Linked DNA regions of Homo sapiens. The gene in region 3 interacts genetically with the main gene of each other region. Each region holds a gene or a part of one and is shown on either strand. Other genes may lie near its edges.

Region 1 (4,793 bases), on a different chromosome or scaffold from region 3:
TGATCCGCCCACCTCGGTCTCCCAAAGTGCTGGGATTATAGGCGTGAGCCACCACGCCCAGCCCCTAACTTAAGTTTTTTAAACAAAATATCACAGACATGTATTTTTAAATAACTGATCATGAAAAGCAGCAGTTCCCCGCCCCACCCCTTCCTAGGTCCCGTCCTGTTCCTGGCAGCAACCACCTTCAGATCTTTGAGCTGTCTCGTTTGGTATTTATCTTCCTATTTTTAAATAATATGCTGTGCCAGGGGACCTTTGGAAAATCCATCACCTGTTGGCCAAGGCTCCTGGCCATTTGCTATGTGACAATCCTTCCTTAATCTGGAAAAAAGATAGATTTGATAAACTGTCACAATGATACAGTGTACTTGTTTTAAGAACGTGGACTCCTAAGACTTGGCCCATTCCATTTCTGAGAGATAACTGAGATAAGTTACAAGATAAGAGAATAACAATATGAGACATTTTGCAATATTTTTATATCTTACTTTATCAAAGAATTACCCAAGCTTGCTGCTACATTATATTTTTTTCTTTTCTTTTCTTTTTTGAAACAGGGTCTCACTCTGTCACTCAGACTGGAGTGCCGTGGTACACCTCCCAAGCTCAAGTGATCCTCCCACCTCAACCCCACAAGCAGCGGACTACAGGCATACACCACCATGCCCGACTTATTTTTGTATTTTTTTTTTTTGTAGAGACAGGGTTTCACCATGTTGCCCAGGCTGGTCTCCAACTCCTGGGCTCAAGCCATCCAACCACCTCAGCCTTCCAAAGTGCTGGGATTACAGGCACGAGCCACTGTGCCTAGCTGCTAAATTATATTTCTATCCAAAAATAAAATATACCCACTCCCTAAAAGCCCTGCCATGAGAAGTTGGGTAACATAAAAGTCCATAAAGTCAGTTAGAAAAAAGGATGGTAGGTCATGTCTCCCCCAGGGAAGCAGACAGAGCCATTACATGCATGAGCTTGAGTATGGATGGATCTAGAATGTGGATGAGTCTATTTCTCCTAAAATCAGGGTAAGGGTAAGAGTTGTGAGAACAGGGGTGTGGTAGGGGACTCATTATTTGGACTTTGAGAACAAAAAACAAAACAAAATGAAAAGCACTTCACCAGCAGAAGGCTGAGAAACCAGTACAGGTAATGTTTGATTATTACCTAACGTTATCTTGTATATAAAATAAAAATAAATCTTGTTTTTAAAAATGCTTTTGACTACTAGTCTGTTTCTTGGGAGCTCCAAATCATTTACCCATCACCTAATTAAAAAACAAAACAAAACACAAATACAATCCCACATCCCACCTCACCGCCAAAGAAAAACACAACAAAATAAAACCCATCTACTGGCTTAAGGCCTGAAAAGGAGAAAGAGGCCTCCAATCAGTGGCCAAAAATGTTCCTACAGCCTATACTTAGGTTACTTTTTTCTTGCTTTACCAATTTAGAACATGACTTCCAATTATGGTAGGTAAGAATTTAGTTCTTTTCCCAATATCCAAGTTATATCACAGTTTTTATTAAATCAGTAGCTGGTGCTTCTATTATTATTTACATGTTTCTCTCCTAAGCTAATAAAACACTATGATTACATTTCCTTTCTTGAACATTTTGTTTTTCCTAGACTTGCTAAGCCCTTCATTGTTTTCATGTGCTTCATTTTTTATGTACCTATTGCTCATTCCTCTAAAGGCTAGATTATATGGAAATCTTTTTTCCACACAAATCAGATACCTGTTAATTCCCTACTCTCATTTTTTCCTAGAATTCTTTATTCTGGAGCCACCTTCCTCCTCTTCCAACGGTCTCATGGTAGAGCTGGCAACCTGAAACTTCTCTATTATTCCAGCAGGTTCCTGGGGTAATGAAAGGCAAACTTTTTGAGAGTCTGTCTGAAAATACCATTCTTCTACTGTCACATCTGATTGACACTGTTGGGTACCGAATTCTAGGTTAGAATTATAATTTTTTTTCCCCTAAGAATGTTTAAGGCATGGTTCCATTCTCTTACAGGTATAAGTGCTGCTGTTGAAAAGTCTGATGTCTGACTCCCAATCCTTTGTATGTGGACCTGATTATTTTTTTCTTCTCTGTAAGCTTTAGGACCTTAACTTTATTCTCAGTGTTATTAAGTTTCTTGACATGCCTTCATGTTAGACTATTTTTATTCCTCAGGCTGGGTAGTTGGCAGGCCCTTTCCATTTAGAGATATATGTCCTTCAATTCTGGGAAATTAATCCACGTGTTTTGTTTGAGAGTTTCCTTGACTCTGTTTTCTATTTTTTCACGAGTCTCTTATTAATCAGATGCTGAACTTCCTGGACTGATTCTCTAATTTGCTTATTTTTTTCTTCTATTGTCCAATGCACTGCACATTGGTTTTGATCTCTGGAAGATTTTCTTGACATTATTTTCTAACTTTCCCAGGGGAAGGAGAGGCACCATAATTTTAATTTCTAAGAGCTCGTTTTTATCCTGTTTGTTCATTTTTTAAAAGCAGTATTGTGTTCTTGTTTCAAAGAGGCAGCTACCTTCCCTTATCTCTCTGAGGACATTTATAAAAGCTATTAATTTTTTAAGTATTCTTTTACCCTGTGCATTATCTATAGCCTCCTATTTCCTTTAGTTTTCTTTTTTATTTTGAGCTTTGTCTATCATGTTGGAGAATCTCCTCAAGTGCCTGGTGATTTTTGGCTCTCAATCTATATTTTAAAGTAAGATACTAAAATGCCAATTAAAAGTCCTATGTAAATGCCCAGGGCTTATTCATCAGTGGCCTTCACTGTAAAGCAATCAGGTGGCCAGACAGATTTTTTTAAATTGAGAGACATCCCACCATGTCAATATCTCATGTTCTTCCCACTAGGGTCACACAATCTTCAAAGAAGCTCCTGCAGATTCTTGCTTGGGGGAGGAGGGGAAGAGGAAAGATGGACATACCAGGCCACCTAAGTTCCCGCACTGGGGCAGGGAAAAGAACTGGGTAGGTCCTGGAGTTCACTACAGATGCTGTCTGATACCGCCTTTTGCTCTGACTGGTGGCCTCAGGGAAAGTGTGTCATGAGCTGAATTTCTCCAAAGACTATACATTCCTATGGGGGTAGGGCAGCTGCAGAGGGTCAGGTAGAGAAGCTCAGATCTCACTGCACTGTACTCAGACTCTGACTCAACCCCTTTGTTTTCACCTCAGCCAGCCTTCCACAATACTTGACGCCCCCACATCCTGAGCGTTTTTAAGGTTGTGTAGGACACATCATCTCAGTTCTCGCTAGTGTCCCTTCCTGCAGGCACTTAGGTCACAGTGCATCCTCTGCAAAGTGAGGCCCTCCTCCACCTACCATCTCTCTCTCACACACTCTTGTCTCCTCTCCCATTCTTTTGTAGGCTTATCACATTTGCATTCTTTCACTATGATTTCAGTGGGGTTTCTCTGGGTTACAGAGAGGATGGATTAAAATGCATGTGTTCAGTTGATCATATTAATCAAAAGCCTCTCCTGTCTTTACCCCTTCTTCATTGGCTCCTTCTCATCAGCATTTTTAAAAAATTTTGTTTTATTGCAGTAAGAACACTTAACATGAGATCTATCCTCTTAAACACATTTTAAGTGTACACTATCATAGACTACATAACTCATCAGCATTTAAACATTCCCAAGTCTCTCCAATATTAAGAAAGACATGACCAATAAATGTTTTCTCTTGATTCTATGTCTCCTTTCACTTGCTGCATTCTGTTGTCCTTCATAGTAAAACTTTTTGAAACAGTTGCCCACACTCACTTCTTCCTCCATGCCATGACATTTCTCAATCCACTGCCACCTACCTTCTGTTTCCATCACCCCACTCAAACTGTTCTTGCAAAGGATACCCTTCTTAATAAATCCAATGGGCACTTCCTAGTCCTCACTTTACTTGACCTCTCAGTAGCATCCAATGTTCTTGTACTCCCTCCTTCTCAAAACACTCACTTCCTTGGAGTTTCTGGCCCTGCACTCTCCTTACGTCTTCTTACCTCTTTGCAAATGGGATCCACACCCTTTATCAGGGCTTATATGGTACAGGCTATGCTTTCTGCTCTAGCCTCACCTCTTGCAATGCCCATATTCAAATTCTATGCTACAACACATGGAAAACGTTTCAGTTTCTAGAGCAAGCCACGTTGTTTTTCTTCTGGTCTTTGTACATCCTATTCACTTTCTACTTGGCCAATTTCATCAATTCCTTATATCTGTGTTGAATACTCTTCCTATGTGCTCCTCAAGCACCTTGTATTTCCACGACTAACATGTTTATTAAAAGGTAGTGCAACTGCCTGCTTGCTTGTTCATGCTCCATGTGGGCAACACCCATATCTATCGTCTACCAAGTTCAAAACTGTGTCACTAGAGCTACACAAGGGCTAGCATAACGTGGGCATCCAATATATGCCAGCTGAGTGAATGAAGACACAACCGACAGAGAAGAAGAATGAAATGTCTACAGAAAGACTATACATTATAACAATTGTTTTAAGTGACAATCCTAATTTTTTACTAAATCAAGAGCCAATACCATGTTGAACCAAAGAAACACTCCAAATAACTACAGATGGAAAAAAAAAAGCTCATAAGCCTTCTTTTTCGCAATAAAAGTAATGATTTCTAATTCAGAAATAATTTTATCCATATACTAGTTTTTACTGGTTTTCATTATTTACTTAATTCTCTATACATCTCTGAGGTGATGAGATACCCAGGTTAGTTTTTGTTGGCAGATCACTTAACTGGTGAAATCAAGGTTAAG
Region 2 (5,417 bases), on a different chromosome or scaffold from region 3:
TTATTTAAAAAGAGCTGGGTGCAGTGGCTCACGCCTATAATCCCAGCTACTCAAGAGGCTGAGGCAAGAGGATCTCTTGAGGCCACTTCAAGACCAGCTTGGGCAACATAGGGAGACCTTGTCTCTAAAAAATATTTAAGGCCGGGTGTGGTGGCTCATGCCTGTAATCCCAGAACTTTTGGAGGCTGAGGTGGGTGGATCACCTGAGGTCAGGAGTTCAAGACCAGCCTGGTCAACTTGGCAAAACCCCATCTCTACTAAAAATACAAAAACTAGCCAGGCACAGTGGTGCCCGCCTATAATCCCACCTACTTGGGAGGCTGAGACAAGAGAATCGCCAGAACCCGGGAGGCGGAGGTTGCAGTGAGCCAAGACCAGGCTACTGCACTCCAGCCCGGGCAACAGAGTGAGACTCCATCTCAAAAAAAATAAAATAAATAACTAAATAAAATAAAAAAAGGATGGGCACAGTGGCTCATGCCTGTAATCCCAGCACACTGGTAGGCTGAGGCAGGAGAATCACTTAAGCCCAGGAGTTTGAGGTTACAGTGAGCTATGACAGTGACACTGCTGCCTGGATGACAGAGCGAGACTCTGTCTCTAAAAAATACATAATAATAAAATTAGCCTGAGGTGAGGTGACACACACCTGTAGTCCCAGCTATCGAGCTCCTTTATGTCCCTGGCTTGAGTGGGGACAGCTTCGGAAGGGCCAGAGTCTATTTTCAGCCTCTCATCCAAGAGGTTGATCACACCCCCTACCATGGGAATGGTGGCTTCCAGAGCTGGCCAAACCACTCCCAGTGGTTTTGTTCTCCCACTCATCATTCATCTTAAATTCCATTTGCAGACAAGGCCCACCTTTCTCCCAAAAGCCAAGGAAGTCACAGTGCTACTGCTGACCACAAGGTGAGGTAACAGAGGTTAAGTGTGGAGAGAGGGGACCATGAGGCTGGGCTGGAGGAGGCTGGTCTTTGTGGCCTTAGGGACAGTAGTCACCCAGGATGACTGGCAGGAAGCAGGCTGAAGGAAGGTGACTCCAGTTTTAGTCAGAATTCCGAGTTCCACCTTGGGCTTGAACAGGGAGTGGGTGTTGCTGGTACCCCCAACACCAACCACAATCCAGTGGTTCAAGGACCTGGATATGGTGGGGGAAAGGAAGTTTGGGGGAAGGCAATTTGGAGAAGAGGTTTGAAAACCACCCATGTAAAAGTTTACTGGGGAATAAAGCATTCATAAACTCCTTTCATCTCCTCTCCAACTTGCTCTGAGTTCAGTGCAATGGTTTTTACAAATAGGAATGGGCCAGACAAATTCGGACTTGAAGTCAAAAAAAAAAGAACCCCAAAGTACAAAGATTCTCTGTGACAAACTTTATTAAATTTTGCATCAGTACAGGGCATCTCTTATTGCATACTAGAATCCCAGGATTCAGGCGGGTGGTAAAGTGGCAACGGCGAATTTGGGTATCTGGTCTCCCAAAAGTACTTGCCGCTCTACCCCTGACTCTGCAATGGCTGCCAGGCGGATCACTCCTCCACTGGAGCCATCCCGCTCCATGGCCAAAGCGAGAGCTGTGGATAAAAGAAGAAAGCTGGGTTCAGATTCAGATGCCGGGATCACTGCAAGGAATGAGGAATGCTGGCCTGGCTTGGGTAGTTGGGGTTGAAGCTCATAGGCCCAGAAGCCTAAGCTCTCACCATTGGCAGTGAATTGCAGACACTCTTCCTTGGTCATGCCTTCCCGGTAGGTAGCATCAACATAGCCATAGATGTAGGAGCTCCCGGAGCCTCCAATGGCAAAGGACTGCCTTACCATCATACCCCCCATAGGCACTGAGTACACCTGCCAGATAGAAGGAGAGGAGTCACCAGTCGTATCCTCCCTCCAACACACGTACATTCACCTGTCCATTCTGCTATTGGTCTGAGGCACGTTAATAGTAAGAATAAGTGAGGTAGAGACTGGAAAGAAAAAGAAAATGGCTGGGGAGAGGATAAAAGTCCTGGCTCAAGTGTGCTCTGGTCGGGTGGGGATCTGACCTGCCCTCCTTCTTGAGGGTCCCAGCCTGCGATGATGATTCCCGCCATCAGGTCTTCCCGGTATCGGTAACACATCTCCTTAAAGAGGCTGGCTGCTGTGTGGACCAGTGGAGGCTCATTCAGTTCAATGCTAGAGGGTCAGGGAAGTCACAGAGAAAGTTTCAAGACCTAGAAGTCAGGCTATTTAGCTCCTCAGCTTCCAACTCCCTTCAGATACTTGCCCCTCCCCTGCCCACAAGCACCTGTGGAAACCGAGCTGGTAGGTGACAGCATCAGCTACTGCCTGGGTATCAGCAGCTGAGCCTGAGCGACAGCAGAAAATGCGGTCGTGAATAGGTGTCAGCTTGTCAGTCACTCGATTGGCGATGTAGGACCTGCAGGATGGCAGAATAGTGAGGAAAGGAGCCCACCTGTCTTCCACCTCCATCCCATCACTACCCACTCTCTTAGGGCTCAGGGATAGGATGTCCAGTATTGCCTTTTTTTCCTTTTTCTTTGAGATGGAGTCTCGCTCTGTTGCCCAGGCTGGAGTACAGTGACGCGATCTCTGCTCACTGCAACATCCACCTCCTGGGTCCAAGCGATTCTCTAGCCCTAGCCTCCCAAGTAGCTGGGACTGCAGGCACGCACCGCCACGCACGGCTAATTTTTGTATTTTTTAGTAGAGACGGGGTTTCGCCATGTTGGCCAGGCTGGTCTCGAACTCCTGACCTCAGGTGATCCACCCGCCTCGGCCTCCCAAAGTACTGGGATTACAGGCGTGAGCCACCGTGCCTGGCCTCCAGTATTGCTTATTCTCATCCAAACTGAAGCGGGCTGGAGAACAGACTTTTGTAAGGATTCCACTAACGAGTGAGGGGAACTGAAAGTAACAAAAGTTGGGACAAATCTTTATCTCCAGAGAGAGAAGAAACCTCTCTTCCCACAGTGGTCTGTGGAGGCAGGCAGGGTGGGCTGGCAGGCAGGAAAGGAAAAGGAAGATGGGAAGACCTTTCACAAATCTGTCCTGAGCTCACCCAGTGGTTGTTCTGGAGTCCGCCCCCAGAACCACGCCCCCGTCAAACTGCACGGCCATGATAGTGGTCTGGGAAAAGGGAAAAAGGAGTAAGTCTACATTCTCCAGCAGACACAAACCTCAATGATCTCTCTACCTAGTTCCAAAAATACAAAATCTGTCCGTCGCTGAACCATTTTCAAATCTTATAGGGGCCTCAGCACCCCGCAGAATACCAGAATGCCAACCCTCAAATCTCAAAAGACTCATCCCGTACTTAAGCCCAAGATCCTCACTAGCCTCGCAGGATTTCAGAATTTCAAACTTCAGCCCACCCTCCACCTCCCACTACGAAGCTACCGCACCACTCCACCATCTTCGGGGTACCTCTCCCCATTCCTGGAGCACAACACATTCCACCTCCTCTCCACCCCTGCCAGATCTCTCAACCCCACTCAGGCTTTATCTTCCCATCGCGTCAGGCCTTGTGCACGTCCTATGAACCCCGATTCCTTCCTCACCCCAGTGGAAACTTCTCGGCTTTCCCAGTCTGGAGTGAACGCCTCCGGCCCCCAAGCCGGTGCTGGCCCGGCTCCCCGAGCAGCTAGTAAGGTAGCCGCCATCTTTCTCCTCCGGTACTGCCTCAAAGCAACTGTCGTAAAGCGCTCTGTCACGCTCTTTGGTCGCGCTTTGAGGCCTTCTGGGAGCGAAGCTACTCCGAGGTTGACGGCAGAAGGGAAAAGAAAAGTACAGTACTGCATGGGGACGGTTCTTTTGCGACAGTGAGCACTTGATGGCAGCGTGGCAAGCAACAAACAAAACAAGAAAGTCAGCAAAACCCCCCCCCCAAAAAACCAAAAAAAACCCAAAAACCGTTCGGCACTTTGGGAGGCTGAGGCGGGCGGATCATGAGGTTAGGAGTTCAAGACCAGCCTGGCCAACATGGTGAAACTCCTTCTCTACTAAAAAATACAAAAATTAGCCGGGCGTGGTGGGGCGCGCCTGTAATCCCGGCTACTGGGGAGGCTGAGGCAGGAGAATCGCTTGAGCCTGGGAGGCGGAGGTTACAGTGAGCCGAGATCACGCCACTGCACTCCAGCCTGAGCGACAGAGCAAGACTGTCTCAAAACAAAAGCAAAAACAAAACAAAACAAAAAACAGTCCTAGTGGCTTGCGCCGTACCGATCTTATGGAGTTACAGTCCAAAGGGCCCACAAAATAAACCTGAGAGTCTTTGGGCTAAAGTGACCACACCATGTTTTCATTTCTTTTAGTTATATACTTAGGAGTATATGCTGGCAGAGGAATTTATGGGTTCTATGATAACTGTATGTTTAACATTTTGAGCAACCGACAAACTGTTTTCCACAGAAACTGCACCATTTTACATCCCTACAAGCCATGTGTGAGGGTTCCAATTTCTCCACATCCTCACCAACACTTGTTATTGTGCATTTTTTTAGTTATAGCCATTCCAGTGGGTGTGAAGTGGTACCCTGTGGTTTTCATTGGTATTTTTCTAATGATTAGTGATGCTGAGCATATTTCCATGAGATAATTGGCCATTTGTATGTCTTTTTTGATGCAATGTTTTTTCAAGTTCTTTGCACATTCTAAAATTGGGATATGTCTTTTGTTTAATATATTTTTGGGGTTTAATTTTTTTTTTTTGAGACGAGGGTGGGGTGTGTGTGTGGGGTGGGTTTGTCTTGCGGTGTTTCCCAGGCTGGAGTGCAGATGGGATCATGGTGCACTATATCAGCCTCGAACTCCTGGGCTCCAGTGATCCTCCCGCCTCAGCTTCTCAAGTAGCTGGGACTACAGGTGTGTGCCACTGAACCCAGCTCTATTTGTCTTTTTTTTTTTTTTTTTTTTTTTTTGAGACGGAGTCTCGCTCTGTCGCCCAGGCGGGACTGCGGACTGCAGTGGCGCAATCTCGGCTCACTGCAAGCTCCGCTTCCCGGGTTCACGCCATTCTCCTGCCTCAGCCTCCCGAGTAGCTGGGACTACAGGCGCCCGCCACCGCGCCCGGCTAATTTTTTTTGTATTTTTAGTAGAGACGGGGTTTCACCTTGTTAGCCAGGATGGTCTCGATCTCCTGACCTCATGATCCACCCGCCTCGGCCTCCCAAAGTGCTGGGATTACAGGCGTGAGCCACCGCGCCCGGCCTCTATTTGTCTTTTTATACTGGTGTGATCTCGGCTCACTGCAGCTTCCGCCTCCCGGGTTCCAGCAATTCTCTTGCCCCAGCCTCCCAAGTAGCTGGGATTACAGGCATGCGCCACCATGCCCGGCTAATTTTTGTATTTTTATTAAAGAGATGGGGTTTCGCCATGTTGGCCAGGCCGGTCTCGAACTCCTAACCTCAGGTGATCCTCCC
Region 3 (5,264 bases):
CTGAGGTTGGGAGTTCGAGACCATCCTGGCCAACATGGAGAAACCCCCATCTCTACTAAAAATAAAAAATTAGCCGGGTGTGGTGGCACATGCCTGTAATCCCAGCTACTCAGGAGGCTGAGGCAGGAGAAATCACTTGAACCCGGGAGGCGGAGGTTGCGGTAAGCCAAGATAGCGCCACTGCACTCCAGCCTGGGCAACGAGCGAAACTGTCTTTTGTCAAAAAAAAAAAAAAAAAAAAAAAAAAAACAACAAACCAAAACCAAAACAAACCAACAGACAAACTTATCAGAGTATAGATGAATCAGCTGGTAAATGAATTCAAGAGGGGTAGAAAAATAAGCGAAACTGGAAGGCTAGGGGACTAAAAACAGTAAGTCCCTAATAGACTGGAGATCATCATAATCGATAGATCACCCATCAGTCAAGTAGAATTGGATAGGTGAATGGAGGGGTACGGGAGGGAAAGAATAGGTAATGTAGGGGAGAGAAAGGTAATGTAATAATTTGAGGTGTTTATTAGAAATGGAGGCATTCCAAAAAGATTCAAAGTGGAGCTATGCTTATAGGCAGCTAGAGTAAAAGTAGTTGTAACTTATTCTTTTCTCACAGTATCATGCTTGTTTTATTTACACATACGCTATGATTTATTGTGTTCTCCATACAAATGTAAATTTTATGAGGGCAGGGACTTAGGTGCAAAACCCCAGTGCCTAAAATAGTAGCAGGCACACAGAGGGCTCAATAACCTGGTAAATATGAATAAAAGAACTCACATGTGATTACTGCAGCTGACAGAATAGAAGGGAACACAATTGGTAGGATAAGTGTCTTGGAACCTGGCAGCCAATTATCAGCAATGAGTATGATAAGGTAGTAAAGAGCAGATTTAAAAAAGAATGGCTGGGCATGGTGGCTCACGCCTATAATCTCAGCATTTTGAGAGGCCCAGGTGGGCAGATAGCTTGAGCCCAGGAGTTTGAGACCAGCCTGGGCAACATGGTAAAACCCTGTCTCTACAAAAATACAAAAATTAGCTGAGGGTGGTGGTGCACACCTGTGGTTCCAGCTACTCGGGAGGCTGAGGTGGAAGGATCAACTGAGCCCAGGGAGGTTGAGACCACAGTGAACCAAGCTCCATGCTACTGCACTCCGGCCTCGGTGACAGAGTGAGACCTTATCTCAAACCAACAACAAAAACCAGTAAACACAGTGCCCTGAAAATGACAATGGGAACTGAAAGAGTCTAAAGATTGACACTCTTCTTCTAAGTTAACAGAGCTCCCCTCCATTTTTTTGAGACTGGGACTAGCTATGCTGACCAGGCTGCAGTGCAGTGGCTATTCACATGCACAATCACTGCACACTGCATCCTCGAACTCCTAGGCTCAAGTGGTTCTCCTGCCTCTGCCTCCTGAGTAGCTGGGACTATAGGCGCACATCACCATGCCCAGCATAAGCCAGGAGTAGAAACATGCTTACCTAGTTATCAGAATTTTATTTTCATTTTAATTATTATTTTTTTTGAAACAGGGTCTTGCTCTGTCACCCAAGCTGGAATGCAGTGGTTCAATCACAGCTAACTGCAGCCTTGACCTCCTGGGCTCAAGTGATCCTCCCACTTCAGCCTCTCAAGTAGCTGGGACCAGAGGCATGAGCCACCAAGCTGGGCTAATTTTAAAATTTTCTGTAGAGACAGGGTCTCACCATGTTGCCCAGGCTTATCTCAAACTCCTAGTCTCAAGTGATCCTCCTGCCTTGGCCTCCCAAAGTGCTGGGATTACAGGTGTGAGCCACTGTACCTGGCCAGTTATCAGAATTTTAAATTCTCAATTTTTTTTTTGGCAACAGATATTGAACATCACATCTCATTGACCAAAGCAAGAAAAGCTAGCCTTCCTGCCTAGCTCCCTGCTAAATTTACATATTTGTCTTGTCACATAATATTTAGAAAATAAGGCTAAATGGTGAACTTTGTCCCACCTTATCTGTGGTCCAAAAACATTAAATGCATAGTCCCAGCAACAGACATCCGTAAGTTTTACACTGCATGCTGTTCTTAGCAGTGTGATGATACCTCATACTGTCCCTGGATGTGGATTATCCTTTGTCTAGCATCTCCATGCTGCCCATTAATCAGTTATCTCAGTTTTATGATTGACTGTTGTGGTATCAAAGGGTTACTTGTGTTCAAGTAACCCTTTTTTTAACTTAATACTAGCCTGAAAGTATAAGAGCAGTGATGCTGGCAATATGGATATGCCAAAGAGAAGCTGTAAAGTGCTTCCTTTAAGTGAAAAGGTACAAGTTCTTGACTTAATAAGAAAAAGAATCATATGTTGAGACTGCCAAGATTTATGGTAAGGACGAATCTTCTATCTGTGAGATTGTGAAGAAGTAAAAAGAAGTTCGTGCTGGCCAGGCGCGGTGGCTCACGCCTGTAATCCCAGCACTTTGGGAGGCTAAGGCAGGTGGCTCATGCGGTCAGGAGTTTGAGACCAGCCTGGCCAACATAGTGAAACCCTGTCTCTACTAAAAATACAAAAATTAGCTTGGCGTGGTGGTGTGCGCCTGTAGTCCCAGCTACTCGGGAAGCTGAGGCAGGAGAACTGCTTGAACCCAGGAGGCGGAGGTTGCAGTGACCCGAGACCACACCATTGCACTCCAGCCTCGGTGACACAGTGAGACTCTGTCATACACACGCGCGTGCACACACACACACACAGAAATTTGTGCATAGGGTTCACTACTATCTGTGGTTTCTGGTACCTACTCTGAGGATAAAGGAGGCCTATTGTAGTGCTCTTCCTCTTTTGCCACTGTGTTTGAGGCCTAATTCTCCAAATCAAACTTGAACCATCAGGTCCAGAATTACATACTGCTCCCTTTTTTGTGCTTCAATGATGCTACAGAAGGACAACCCTAGCAAGAGTGCCTGAACTATGTAACATAATAAAAAGTAAGATAGAGGCGATGCCACTGACAACTCTGGGGATGTCTCAGAAGATAGTTGAGATTTATCATTAGGTAACGATCCAACTGACAGGTTAAAAACAAACTCACTCCTGAAAACAAACACATCCTTTTTGAGACAGGATCTCGCTTTGTCACAAAGATTGGAGTGCAGTAGTGTGATCTCAGCTCACTGCAGCTTTGACTTCCTGCCTCAGCCTCCTGAGTAGCTGGGACTACAGGTGCACACCACCATGCCCGGCTAATTTTCTAATTTTTTTGTAGAGATGAGGTCTCACTATGTTGCCCAGGCTGATCTCAAACTCCTGGGCTCAAGTGATCCTCCTGCTTCAGCCTCTCGAAGTGCTGGGATTATAGATGTGAGCTACTGTGCCCAGCCAACACACACATAACTGCAATAAAACAGTATTAAGTAATTTCAATGGCCTCAATGGATCACTGACTTGGACAAGGTAATAATGAAGCCAACTGTCCTTTGTTAAACAACTTCTAACAAAATAACAAAACCTTAACCTATTTGTTTCCCTTCTTCCAACTTTAGAAAAGTCAAAAAGTTCATCTCTGTTCTTGCCTTTTAAAATGTCTTTTATTAAAGAAGTCTGATGTGTTATTATTTCTTTTTCAAAGTGAAGACTCAGCAGCAAGAATTACTGTCTGCTGATAAAAACTTTTTTTTTTCTTTGGCTGGGGGTTGGGGGGCGTGTGTGTCACATAAACCTCAGAGATGGAACAGGAGGCTGCCCAACACACTAAGTAGGTAATCATTACTTAAATGACTTGGGATGGCAGTGCTTTCAACCAATTTCTGTGCAAAGAAAATAAAGTCCATAAAGTTTAGGGGGAAAATTGCCAGAGGGATGCTCTATTCCTTCTCTGATAAAATTCCAATGAGCAGTGTGTTACATAATTCTCTAATCTTCTCAAAGCAGAATTGACAATTAGGTGCCAAGTTCTTCCTGAATCCTTTTCAGCAAATTTTTTGCAAGGAACTAAAAACCTAATCTACCTTCTATTAGAATGAAAATTTATTTGTAAAAATAAGGGCTGAGAGGAAAATCTTGGGGTATCTAGAAAATGTTTTTAAAAGGACTTGGCTACTAATCATGCTGGCAGCCTTATTCAACAGAAGCTCACAAGGGAATATACCTGAAAGACAAGTCAATTTACATGAAACTTGGGGGTACAGTGTGGTATCTGGAGACTCTAAACTGTTTTTTCAGTCATAACTATTGATTTGCTTTTCAAAATACAGTAATGAAAAAGTATCTGAAATAAGTAATAACACAAACCTTGGAAAGAATGGTATGTAAAAAAATTAAACAGGCAGAGATGTCAAAATAGGTCTATCTTCAACTTTACTGCTCAAACTTAAAAATCAAGGTTAATAAATCAAGGCTAATAATTAGCAACTCTTACCACTCCTTGGAGGTCTTTATGCTTAATAATTTGCTAAAAGTAAGTTGTCCTTTTTGGTTCACCTTTTTCAAGAACTTTGGGCTTACCGCTTTATTAGGTATGTTGTCCTGTGTTAGACAAAGAGGGACTCAAAGTCTGGGTATCAAAACTCTTCTTCAGCAATCACTAAAACTACGGCCCAATGAATGTAGGAATGTTTAATCCTATGAGGGCTCAGTATGTGCTTATTTTTTCCTGCTTTTTCTCTCATGTGAATAACTGTCATTGTGATTATCCCTTGTAACTTTTACCTTGGCTACCTTAAAATTTTGGGTGTGGTAAACCAGAAAATCCAGGTTAACTATGTATACAAGTAAAATCAGAAAGTGTTACCTGTGAACTGGCAGATCTGCATTAGGCATTAGTAGAAATGCAAAACCTTAGTTAAGTTCTGCCCCATACCTACTGAAGTAGAATCTTCATTTTAAGAAGATTCCCTGGGGATTCATATACACATTAAGGTTTCAGAACTACTGCTCTAATGAAGGACCAACTATGAGCCTCTATTGCAGAATAAAGCTCAAAAAGGATTTCCAACAGCTATTTCAAGCGCTAGGACCTTAGGTTCTGTATAGTTGAGATCTTACCTACAGGTAACCAGGATATTACTACAGCTGAGTAACTGCCGTATGCAACTAAAAAGGAGATGGAAAGTCTAATCTTGCCTGTTATTTGCCATTTCTGGGGGTTACTAACCAGGAAAGTTAATACACATTCCAAAAGAAAAATGAAATCTCCAAGAGAACTCTTGTATCTTTACTTACCACCATTCCAATATTGTTCTGTTGTCCACTAGTCGCCATCTCCACACATTCATCTATCACAAGGTTCATAAA
Region 4 (4,793 bases), on a different chromosome or scaffold from region 3:
ACACAAAAAAATACTTCTGCAAGGACATCTGCCCAACAACTGCCTGCCCAACCTCCGACTGGCGTCACTTTTGTTATTAATCTTTGGAGCCAAGGATAATTATTTCAAAACAATTATGTCATCCTCATTTTCGTCTTCAAAAACCTCTGTCTTCCTTACCTCCCTGAATATGCACAAGTTTACTATGGCATTCCCACTGCAATGCTCTATTCCCAAACATCATTTTCTTTTAGAGAGCCTCTGTTTGTTATTTAGGTTGACAAGTAACAAGCTTATTTTAAAATTCAAACTTTGCAGACTGACCCTTACAAGCCAATCAATTTTTTTAAAGAAAGTTTCTTAGCCATACCAACCTAATATGTTAGTTACACAGAAAAATGAGGGTACAGGGGAATTCATTTTTTACTTATGCAGGTTGTAACAGCACAGGCTAATTCTGGGACCAGTAATTTGTTAACAATCACTTTTTAATTCTATTGCTTCCTGATCAAAGGAGATTAAGATACTCCTTTGATGGCCCGTTTGTGCTATGTGTTTTGATTTGTTCTGGAAAGTTCAACCCGGAATCCATTTCTTCATCTCCCTATTATCATGATTTTTCCACATCCTCTCTGCTTAAACTATAAAAATGGATTGTTGCCTTAAACTAAGAACACTGATCAATAAAATAACAGGGATCAAAAGAGGGGTACTGAAATAATGAAACCAAAAATGCTGCACTAGCTTAATGGAAGAGGTAAAAGGGTAGATATTAAAAATCCCGATGTTGCAGGCTGGAATTATTATGCAGTGACTAAAACATTAAGTCAAACTGTCACCTACCATACCTTGAAAGGCAGACCACATACCAAACAAGTTGTAGAATTAGGAGAAAATGAAAGGAAAAAGAGAAGACATTGGTATATGTTGGCTAGTGTTGGAATTTACAAAAATTTCAGCAAATTCTCAAAAAAGAGAAATAACTAACTCTAGAGGTAGTCCCCCAAGCAGACTGCTACAGTGTGTACTCCAAGTTGACATAAGACTCACGAATTTGGAAATAGATTCTGTTCATTTGTAGCAGTGAACCTAGAAATCAGAAGGCCCATGTTCTAGTCCCATAAATTCCTCAAATTAACTTGGCATTTATGCTCTTAATCTCAGCTTTCTTTGGGTTAAGAATCTTGCTTCTGGGGAGCTCATAAAGTGTTAATAGAAGCAGCAACTCCTAAAACTGGTTCTAAGCTATTTAAAGAACTGGACAAAACATTTTCCAAAGAAAAGCACACTGGAAATGAGATCTTCTAAATTCTAGCCTTTAAAAATCTTTTGCTTTCCTTATGGCTTTGGCTAGGATACAAAGAAAAGTATGTTTACCCTTACTAAGGAACATAGTAAATTTAAATCATGTCTTAATGTAAAAATAAATTGTAAAAATTTCACATAACAGTAAGTAAAAGCCAAAAGTAGAATATGTGAATCGGCTGGGTGCGGTGCCTCACGCCTGTAATCCCAGACTTTGGGAGGCCGAGGCAGGCAGATCACCTAAGGTTGGGAGTTCAAGACCGCCTGACCAACATGGAGAAACACCACATCTACTAAAAAAAAAAAAAAAAAAAAAATTGCTGGGCGTGGTGGCGCATGTAATCCCAGCTACTCGGGAGGCTGAGGCAGGAGAACTGCTTGAACCTGGGAGGCGGAGGTTGTGATGAGCCGAGATCGCGCACCATTGTACTCCAGCCTGGGCAACAAGAGCAAAAGTCTCTCTCAAAAAAAAAAAAAAAATCATGAGAATCATGGAAGGTTATCTAATGCTATGATTTTTATTCTCCTCCACATGTGCTTTCACACTGAGAGGAGCCACTAGGGGAAAGGCTGAGTATGTAGAGAAAAGGCGTAATAAGGTGGTATCTCAAAGGAGGTGGAGGATTAACACTGAAAAGAAGATCCTTAACGCAGTGTTTGAGCTAACAATTTAAAAAAATTTTAAAGAAAATACTGTATAGAAGACAGAATATTTCTTCCTTGAAGAACAGAGATAAAAACATAAGAATAGGGAGAAGATGGGCAAATCCCGGCATTTGCCAATCCTGGTATTTTGCCATGTTCTTTATGCAACGTGGAAAAAATGTTAAAGAGTGTTAGGCTTGTTTGGCTATTTTTCTCATCAGGTAAGTAATTTCCTGGATGCGAAGAGCGATTTGGAAGAGCCTGAATAAGCACTGTATTTGTGGCACTAATCCCAGAATTGGGGTGAGAAGGGGACAGAATGACAAATATTTGTTGAATACTTAATAAATTCCAGGCACTATCACACAATTTACATTTCTCAAAATAAACTAGATACCATTAACCCTACTACAGTCAAGAAACTTGGGTATTCAGGTTACAGATTTATCTAAGACTCCAAGTAAAAACTGCCTGAACCCCAAAGTGTGTTTTCTTCATTATCCCACACCTCCTACCTAAGTGTGAGTAACATCAAGAGTATTCTGGGCCGGGTACAGTGGCTCACGCCTGTAATCCCAGCACTTTAGGAGGCCAAGGTGGGCAGATCGCCTGATCTGGCCAACATGATGAAGCCCCATCTCCACTAAAAAAAAAAGTCCAAAAATTAGCCAGCATGATGACACACACCCGTAATCCCAACTACTCGGGAGGCTGAGCTTATAGTGATCCAAGACTGCACCACTGCTCTCCAGCCTGGGTGACAGAACGAGTAAGACTCTGTCTCAATAAATAAATAAATAAATAAATAAATAAATAAGTATTCTGCTTTGCACTTGTGTTCACAGGATTAGAGATCTTAAAGAGAATATCTGAAAATCAAATAACAAAGAAGTTAAAGATATAGATGAGAGAAGAATTAAAGCTGCCAACACAGGGTCTAGGCAGGAGGAAGGGAAATGAAACCTTGAAGAACAATGAAATGGAAGAATATCTTGATATCAAAAAACATATATAGGCTGGGCACGGTGACTCATGCCTGTAATCCCAGCACTGTGGGAAGCCGAGGCGGGCGGATCATGAGGTCAAGAGATTGAGACCATCCTGGCAAATATAGTGAAACCCCGTCTCTACTAAAAATACAAAAATAAATTAGCTGGGTGTAGTGGCGCATGCCTGTAATCCCAGCTACTTGAGAGGCTGAGGCAGAAGAATCGCTTGAACCCGGGAAGCGGAGGTTGCCGTGAACCAAGATTGCGCCACTGCACTCTAGCCTGGGCGACAGAGTGAGATTGCGTCTCAAAAAAAAAAAAAAAAAAGCATATATATTAGAAATAAAAATAAATATTTTTTAAAAAATACAAAAATTAGCCAGGTATGATACTGTACATCTGTAGTCCCAGCTACTCGGGAAGCTGAGCGCACTCCACCGAGTGCTTGAGCAAGGGGGTTGGGCTGCAACCGTGCCACTGCACTCCAGCCTGGACAACAGAGGAAGACTCTTTTTTATTTTTTTCCCCAGACGAAGTCTCACTCTGTCGCCCAGGCTGGAGTGCAATGGTGCAATCTTGACTCACTGCAACCTCTGCCTCCTGGCTTCAAGTGATTCTCCTGCCTCAGCCTCCCGAGTAGCTGAGATTACAGGTGTGTGCCATCACGCCTGGCTATTTTTTTTTTGTATTTAGTAGAGACGGGGTTTTACCATGTTGGCCAGGCTGGTCTCAAACTCCTGACCTCAGGTGACCCACCCACTTTGGCCTCCCAAAGTTTTGGGATTACAGGCGTGAGCCACCACGTCTGGCAGACTCTGTCTAAAAAAAGAGTTGGGCACGGTGGCTCATGCCTGTAATCCCAGCACTTCGGGAGGCCGAGGTGGGCGGATCACCTGAGGTCTGGAGTTCGAGACCAGCCTGGCCAACATGACAAAACCCCGCCTCTACTAAAAATACAAAAAGCAGCCAACTATGGTGGCACACGTCTGTAATCTCAGCTACTCAGGAGGCTGAGGTAGGAGAATGGCTTGAATGGCTCGAACCTGGGAGGCAAAGGTTGCAGTGAGCCGAGATCGTGCCACTGCACTCCAGCCTGGGTGACAGAGCAAGACTCCATCTCAAAAAAAAAAATTTGGCCGGGCGTGGTGGTGGGCACCTGTAATCCCAGCTAATGAGGAGGCTGAGGCAGAATCGCTTGAACCCAGGAGGCAAAGGTTGCAGTGAGCCGAGATTGCATCATTGCATCCCAGCCTGAGCAACAGAGCGAGAGACTGTCTCAAAAAAAAGTTTAAGTCTGGTAATAAATTTCAGTATTTAGACATGAAAGAGGACTGTTACGTTGGTGGTAACTGTCTATATAGAAGGCACGGTCAGGTTCCAGAGGAAGAATCACTTCTGCTCTTGGTAGAAACACATAATGGGCAACAGGAAATGCAAAGAATGCTGAATGGTGTGAATTTACTAAGAGGCAAGAAAACAACATGAGAGTCTCCACTCACAGTCTACAAAGAGAGACAGAATTCTGTTAAAGGAAATATAGAAAATAGTCTATAAGGAAGTTATTACAGCAGGATCACAGAGAATAATGAGCACAGATGAGGGAGGAGGATGGTGGCTGGGGGATGGTCAGACAGACCTGGGAGCCAGAGGAGGACTGGACTGACAGAGGTTAACGTACAGCACCAGAAAGCACAGGGGACTCTGGGAGTATATACTTGAGGTAGTCACTGGTAAAGACTAGAAGGCAAAGGAACTTGGGAATTAAAGTGATACAGAAGGAACTGGCCTCCAAATTCTGAATGTGATTCCAAAAAACCACAGGCTAGGAGCAGTGGCTCACACCTGTTATCCCTGCACTTTGGGAGGCTGAGGTGG

The links. A genetic interaction does not mean that the proteins touch.
Region 1: changes in SNRPG (region 3) and GATB together harm fitness more than expected from each alone (negative genetic interaction), as found in Homo sapiens cells (one large-scale study listed by BioGRID).
Region 2: changes in SNRPG (region 3) and PSMB6 together harm fitness less than expected from each alone (positive genetic interaction), as found in Homo sapiens cells (one large-scale study listed by BioGRID).
Region 4: changes in SNRPG (region 3) and METAP2 together harm fitness more than expected from each alone (negative genetic interaction), as found in Homo sapiens cells (one large-scale study listed by BioGRID).

Annotation. Positions count from the first base shown.
Region 1 is NC_000004.12:151,750,118-151,754,910, forward strand, and holds part of GATB (glutamyl-tRNA(Gln) amidotransferase subunit B, mitochondrial isoform 1 precursor), read right to left. Parts: intron 1-4,793. UniProt on the Homo sapiens protein: Allows the formation of correctly charged Gln-tRNA(Gln) through the transamidation of misacylated Glu-tRNA(Gln) in the mitochondria. The reaction takes place in the presence of glutamine and ATP through an activated gamma-phospho-Glu-tRNA(Gln).
Region 2 is NC_000017.11:4,794,437-4,799,853, reverse strand, and holds PSMB6 (proteasome subunit beta type-6), read right to left. Parts: upstream 3,691-5,417; 5' UTR 3,660-3,690; coding exon 3,558-3,659; intron 3,127-3,557; coding exon 3,059-3,126; intron 2,417-3,058; coding exon 2,285-2,416; intron 2,173-2,284; coding exon 2,043-2,172; intron 1,846-2,042; coding exon 1,701-1,845; intron 1,595-1,700; coding exon of another isoform or gene 1,575-1,594; coding exon 1,432-1,574; 3' UTR 1,359-1,431; downstream 1-1,358. UniProt on the Homo sapiens protein: Component of the 20S core proteasome complex involved in the proteolytic degradation of most intracellular proteins. This complex plays numerous essential roles within the cell by associating with different regulatory particles.
Region 3 is NC_000002.12:70,282,876-70,288,139, forward strand, and holds part of SNRPG (small nuclear ribonucleoprotein G), read right to left. Parts: coding exon 5,193-5,264; intron 4,497-5,192; coding exon of another isoform or gene 4,386-4,496; exon of another isoform or gene 4,323-4,385; intron 1-4,322. UniProt on the Homo sapiens protein: Plays a role in pre-mRNA splicing as a core component of the spliceosomal U1, U2, U4 and U5 small nuclear ribonucleoproteins (snRNPs), the building blocks of the spliceosome.
Region 4 is NC_000012.12:95,504,749-95,509,541, reverse strand, and holds part of METAP2 (methionine aminopeptidase 2), read right to left. Parts: intron 1-4,793. UniProt on the Homo sapiens protein: Cotranslationally removes the N-terminal methionine from nascent proteins. The N-terminal methionine is often cleaved when the second residue in the primary sequence is small and uncharged (Met-Ala-, Cys, Gly, Pro, Ser, Thr, or Val).